Regions from separate parts of the Homo sapiens genome. Here region 2 is linked to region 1. The links come from fine-mapping of genetic effects on gene expression. A gene starts in region 1. The other region holds a variant in brackets. All regions are shown on one strand. Distances are from middle to middle.

Evidence for each region. PIP is the estimated chance that this variant, and not a neighbour inherited with it, causes the effect.
Region 2: its variant is the best candidate, but not a certain one, in a credible set for the expression of HAPLN3 in esophagus mucosa (GTEx, PIP 0.57).

The regions. Positions count from the first base shown.
Region 1 is chr15:88,893,861-88,896,765 of GRCh38, reverse strand. It overlaps HAPLN3 (hyaluronan and proteoglycan link protein 3), which reads left to right and starts at 1,222. Exons shown (of 5, transcript NM_178232.4): 1 at 1,222-1,307. RefSeq lists an enhancer at 1,385-1,996.
Region 2 is chr15:89,005,942-89,008,846 of GRCh38, reverse strand. No RefSeq gene overlaps it. Among named protein-coding and RNA genes, the nearest start is that of CARMAL, 34 kb to the left of the region's middle. The variant A/C (reference allele first, on the strand shown) is at 1,176.

The sequences.
Region 1 (2,905 bases):
TGTGCTCCAATGTGCCCCTGGCTGTGTGTAACACACACACATGCACACACACACACACACTCATGGGCCAACTTGAGCTGTGTTTAGGAAGAGGCTCTGAGCTCTGTGACCCTGTGACCCTTCGACCCTTCCCCCAGCCAAAGCTGAAGGACCTCCTTAGTCTTTTCTGCTGAGGAAACATCGGGCTGTCCAGGCCAGGGCCCCCATTGGTCTGGACAGGAAAGAAAACACCCTGTCCAAACAGAGGCATCCTGAGCGGCTGCCTGGATGGCTGTGCTGATTAGCAGGATTCCGAAGGGAGGCCCACCCCTGTTGGAGGACCACTCAGAAGCCTGATTGCCCCTGCAGGCTGCAGAGGTATCCCACCCTGTGTCTCCCCTCCCAGCCAGGGCCACTCATTCAAGCCCCATGTGCTGGGGATAGCACCTGCTATGTGCCTGACAGTGAGTTGGGAATCTGGCCAGTGTTTCATGATGGCCAAACTCAGGGGCATGAGGACATCAGCAACCCCTTGCTTTTTTTTTTTTTTTTTTTTTGAGACGGAGTTTTGCTCTTGTTGCCCAGGCTGGAGCACAATGGCATGATCTCAGCTCACTGCAACCTCCGCCTCCTGGGTTCAAGCAATTCTCCTGCCTCAGCCTCCCAAGTAGCTGGGATTACAGGCATGCTCCACCACGCCCAGCTAATTTTGTATTTTTAGTAGGGACAGGGTTTCACCATGTTGCCCAGGCTGGTCTTGAACTCCTGACCTCAGGTGATCCACCGGCCTCCACCTCCCAAAGTGCTGGGGTTACAAGCATGAGCCACTCACTGCACCTGGCCTCACCCCCTTGCTTTCTATTTGGAAAAGAAAGTAATACAGAAGTCTCACCCCTTCCACAATCAAAGGTGGGGAGCAGCCTTAGCCCCTAGCAGAATGCTGGACAGGGGCTTCCCCTGCTTACTCCCACTGTTTTTGGTATACCAGGCTTTCTAAGGGGATCCCCCCTCCCCAAACTCTCCTATTCCACCCCTACTCTCCTTTCCCAAGACGTGAGGGCCTCAACTCTTGCACACCCTCTTTGCGGTGGTTCCCAGCGAGTCTGGAGACCGCTCAAGCCTGCAGCAGCTCCTCCCTTCGAGCCCAGCCCTTGGGAGGGAAAGGTGCGCGTGTTCCTTTAAGGGGCTGGTCTGGCGGGAGCGCGGGGGTTTTTCTGCTGCCGCTTCCTTTCTGCCCTTTTAATTTCCCCGAAATCAGACTGCTGCCTTGGACCGGGACAGCTCGCGGCCCCCGAGAGCTCTAGCCGTCGAGGAGCTGCCTGGGGACGGTACGTGGCTTAGGGGTCGCTGGGCTTCTGGGGCTGTGTGCGGGCCGGGTTCCTCCCTTACCGCTTTGGGTGCCCTGCGGGTCCCCACACCTCCCGGGCAGGGTCCGGGGAAGGGGCAGGAGGCGTGGGCCGGGCACTGCGGAGGCCCGGGCTGAGATGGGCTGTGATCGCGGGCGAGGGGCGCCCGGGGCACAAGTGGGGAGGGAGCGGCGCGGGGATGCGGGCGCCGGACCCTCGTGCCCACCGTGAGGGAGCAGAGCCCGAGCGGACCCCGTGGCCTCCGAGACCACCGTCCGCCTCCAGCCCCCTTCCTGCCAGGGTCCGCTTGGCTCTCTCCCCTGTCGTCTGTCCAGGGTCGGCTGCCTCCAGTGCCGTCCGCGGCGCCCCAGGCCCTGCCCCTGGGTATCTGTTGGATGCTCCGGGGGCCCCGGGAGTCCTGGGAGGGGCTGAGGGCAACCTGCGAGGCGGCTGGCGGACCTGCGCCTCTGGACCGCAGCTGGCCGGCTCTGGGCGCCTGGGGCAAAGGCAACTGATGCCTATGGGTTCCAGACCTCGCTCACCGGGGTTCTTGCCCCAGGGACAGCGAGGCCAGAAGGGTAGGGAGGGTGGAGGGCAGAGCCCTGGGTGGGAGATGGCGACCCTCAGGGAGAAACGTAGGCTTGTGCGCAGCCAGTATGGAAACAGCACGGCACTTGGACCCAGTCCTGCCACCAGCTCGTTGGCAGCCACAGGCCACAGGCAGCCTGTAAACCTGTTGGGACCTTGGTGTCCAGCGCTGACCCGCGGGAGTGCCTGTGCTCCCTGGAGTAGGGGGCAGCGATTGAGAGGGGCCCTGGCTTCTCTCCCTCGACGCCGCCCGGGCCAGCGGATTGGGAAACACCTCCGGTTTTCATTCTCCTGGGGGCTGCAGGTTTCAAAGGCGGAGATCAAGCCTTGTGCAAACAGGGACAGGGATGTCAAATTTCTCGCTGGGAGCAGCGCTCGTGCAGACCTCGCGGGCGATGCTGCCTCCTGCTGGTACCTGGGGGACTTGTACTCACGGAAGGCCCAGTGCGGACATGCACCTGGCAGGGAGGTGGCACCTACCCTCCCTCCAAGCCCAGGCTTATTGTTCTTGGGTGGAGGGGTCCCTAGGCTGGGGCGCCTGGGAAAAGCAAAGGGCTGGTCATCAGGAAACCTGAACTTTCTCTAAGTTCGAGATATTTGACAAAGATAACGCCTTGGGTAGTTCACTGACCTCCACTCTCTTGGCCTCAGTTTCCTCAACTGTGAAGAGGAGGCAGTGGTGACCACTTTGTCTCGTAGGCAGTGAGAGAGGAGAAAGAGCCACTGAGATGGTGTAAGACTTCACTGTGTGAACTGCTCACCAGAGTAGTAACAGGTCATATTTTCCCAGTGCTTGCTCCTTATCAAGCATCAAGCAGTATTTTCAGTGCTCTGCAGCTATTCTCTCCCTTAATCTTCACGAGAGTGTTTTCTGTTTGGTATTGTCGTGACCGCCCCCCCCACCCCAACTTTTTTTTTTTTTTTGAGATGGAGTCTCACTCTTCTTGCCCAGACTGGAGTGCAATGGCTCAATCTCGGCTCACTGCAACCTC
Region 2 (2,905 bases), 110 kb before region 1:
AATAAAATAAAATAAAATAAAATAAAATAACCTACGTGGTTCACGTTTCCACTGAGATGTGGGCTTTAGGAATTGAAAACCAATTGTAGGCTGTGTGTGGTGGCTCATGCCTGTAATCTCAACACTTTGGGAGGCCAAGACAGGCAGATCATCTGAAGTCAGGAGTTCCAGAGCGGCCTGACCAAAATGGTGAAACCCCGTCTCTACTAAGAACACAAAAATGAGCTGGGCATGGCGCACGCCTGTAATCCCAGCTACTCAGGAGGCTAAGGCAGGAGAATTTCTTTAACCCGGTAGGCAGAGGTTGCAGTGAGCCAAGATGGCGTCACTGCACTCTAGCCTGGGTGACAGAACGAGACTCTGTCTCAGACAAAAAAAAAAAAAAAAGAAAACCAACTGTAGTGGGCTGAATGGTGGCCCCCCAAAGGACATGTCCATGACCTAATCTCTGGAACCTGTGAATATGACCTTAGTTGGAAAAAGGTCTTTGCAGATATAATTATATCTTTGCAGATATAATTGATTTAAAATCTCAAGATGAGGAGATTATCCTAGATTAGCCAAGTGAAGCTTGAATACAGACAGTGACAACTGTCCTTATAAGAGACACACAGAGAAGATACAGAGAAGGGGAAAAAGCAGTGTGACCACAGAGGTAGAGATTACAGTGATGTGGCCACAAGCCAAAAAATGTCTGGAGCCACCAAAAGCTGAAAGAGGCAAGAAAGGATTCTTCCCCAGGACTTCAGAGGAAGAGCAGCCTGTCAAGACATTGATTTCAGACTTCTGGCCTCCAGAACTGTGAGAGAATAAATTGTATGTTGTTAGTTTAAGCCACTATGTTTGTGGTAATTTGTTACAACAGTCCTAGGAAACCAATACACCCATAAATATTGTTTATAATGTTAGGACAAAAAATTGTGATGAGTGGCCGGGTGCGGTTGCTCATGCCTGTAATCCCAGCACTTTGGGAGGCTGAGGAGGGCAGATCACTTGAGGTCAGGAGTTCGAGACCAGCCTGGCCAACATAGTGAAACCCCGCCTCTACTAAAAATACAAAAATTAGCTGGGCGTGGTGGCGTGCACCTGTAATCCCAGATACTTGGCAGGATGAGGCGGGAGAATCGCTTGAACCCAGGAAGCAGAGTTTGCAGTGAGTCAGATCGTGCCACTGC[A/C]CTCCAGCCTGGGTGACAGAGCAAGACTCTGTCTCAAAAAAAAGATCCATAAGGAATTAAATGTAATTATTTGCACTGCACTTGTGCTGCTTGAAGGAGACATTCTAAGAATCCAGGTGGAATGGCCACCCAGTTATCATACTTCATCTGTTTCTCAATATTAGCCTCTTTCAGATCAGCAATTGCTTTGGGGTGAGGAGGATTGACTGGGAAAGGACATGAGGAAAATTCTGGGGTGATGAAATATTCTTTGTCTTGATAGGGGTATATGTTAAATGAGGGTATTTCTATCTCAAAATAAATACAACATGAACCACAGATGTATTTTAAAATTTTCTAGTAGCCCCATTACAAAACAAAAAAGAAACAGATGAAATGAATGTTAATGCTATATTTTACTTACATTATTTGATAAAAATGGTTGGATGCTACTCTTAAAATCTGAGTATTTTTCCATGTGTACATTATACCTCAATTAAGAAAAATAGACTGGGTACAGTGGCTGACACTTGTAATCCTAACACTTTGGGAGGCTGAGGCGGGCAGATCGCTTGAGCCCAGGAGTTTGAGACCAGCTTGGGCAACATGGCAAAACCTTGTCTCTACAAAAAATACAAATATTAGCGGGGCATGGTGGCACATGCCATCAGCTACTTGGGAGGCTAAGGAGGGAGGATGGCTTGAGCCCTCGAGGTGAAGGCTGGAGTGAGCCGAGATTGCACCACTGCACTCCAGCCTAGGGAACACAGAGAAAACCTGTCTCGAAAAGAAAAGAAGATGGATCACGAGGTCAGGAGATCGAGACCATCCTGGCTAACACAGTGAAACCCCGCTTCTACTAAAAACACAAAAAATTAGCCAGGTGTGGTGGCGGGTGCCTATAGTCCCAGCTACTCGGGAGGCTGAGGCAGGAGAATGGCGTGAACCCGGGAGGCGGAGTTTGCAGCGAGCTGAGATCGTGCCATTGCACTCCAGCCTGGGTGACAGAGCAAGACTCTGTCTCAAAAAAAAAAAAAAAAAAAATATATATATATATATATAAATAAAAAAGAAAAGAGGAGAAAAGAAGGGAAAGAGAAAAGGCTTGCTTCACATATGGGCCACAACTTACATAACCTTTTGTTTTTCCTGGAGTTTTGTTTATTGCTTCTCTGGCTTTTTTACTGATGGAGAGACAAAGATCATCCTCTTTCATAAACATTATTTGTTGATTGGAATCCACTTTCTTCTTGAAATCATTTTTTAATGTAATTAAAAATTTGCTATTCTAACTGAACCACTAACTTTGCTGGTCTGTGGACAACTGTCATTCTGGGATTTTTTTTTTTCCACATTGTGCTCCTCAGTTAATTTCACTATTTCCTGTTTGTGAATTCGTTTTTTATTTTGCTGGAGTATGTCTTTGAACCTTTTTTTTCCCCAGAAAATGCACGCGGGTGTACATCTATAGCATCAAAACTCCCTGAGAACTTGGAAGGCGCTCTTTCAATATATATCTTAGACGTCTTCTAGAACCCAATATTGCCGATGACAAATTTGATGCTAGTTGCAGGTGACCTGTTTTCCTCACTCCAGAAACATGTAGAAAGCTTTTCATTATCCTTAGAGTGCTGCAGTATTACCAGGCTGTGTCTAGTTTTGTTTTTGGCTTTTCTTTGTCTTGCTTGACACTTGAACTCTTTCAATCTGAAGATTCATGTCTTTCTTCAACTTAGGGATTTTTTTCCTAT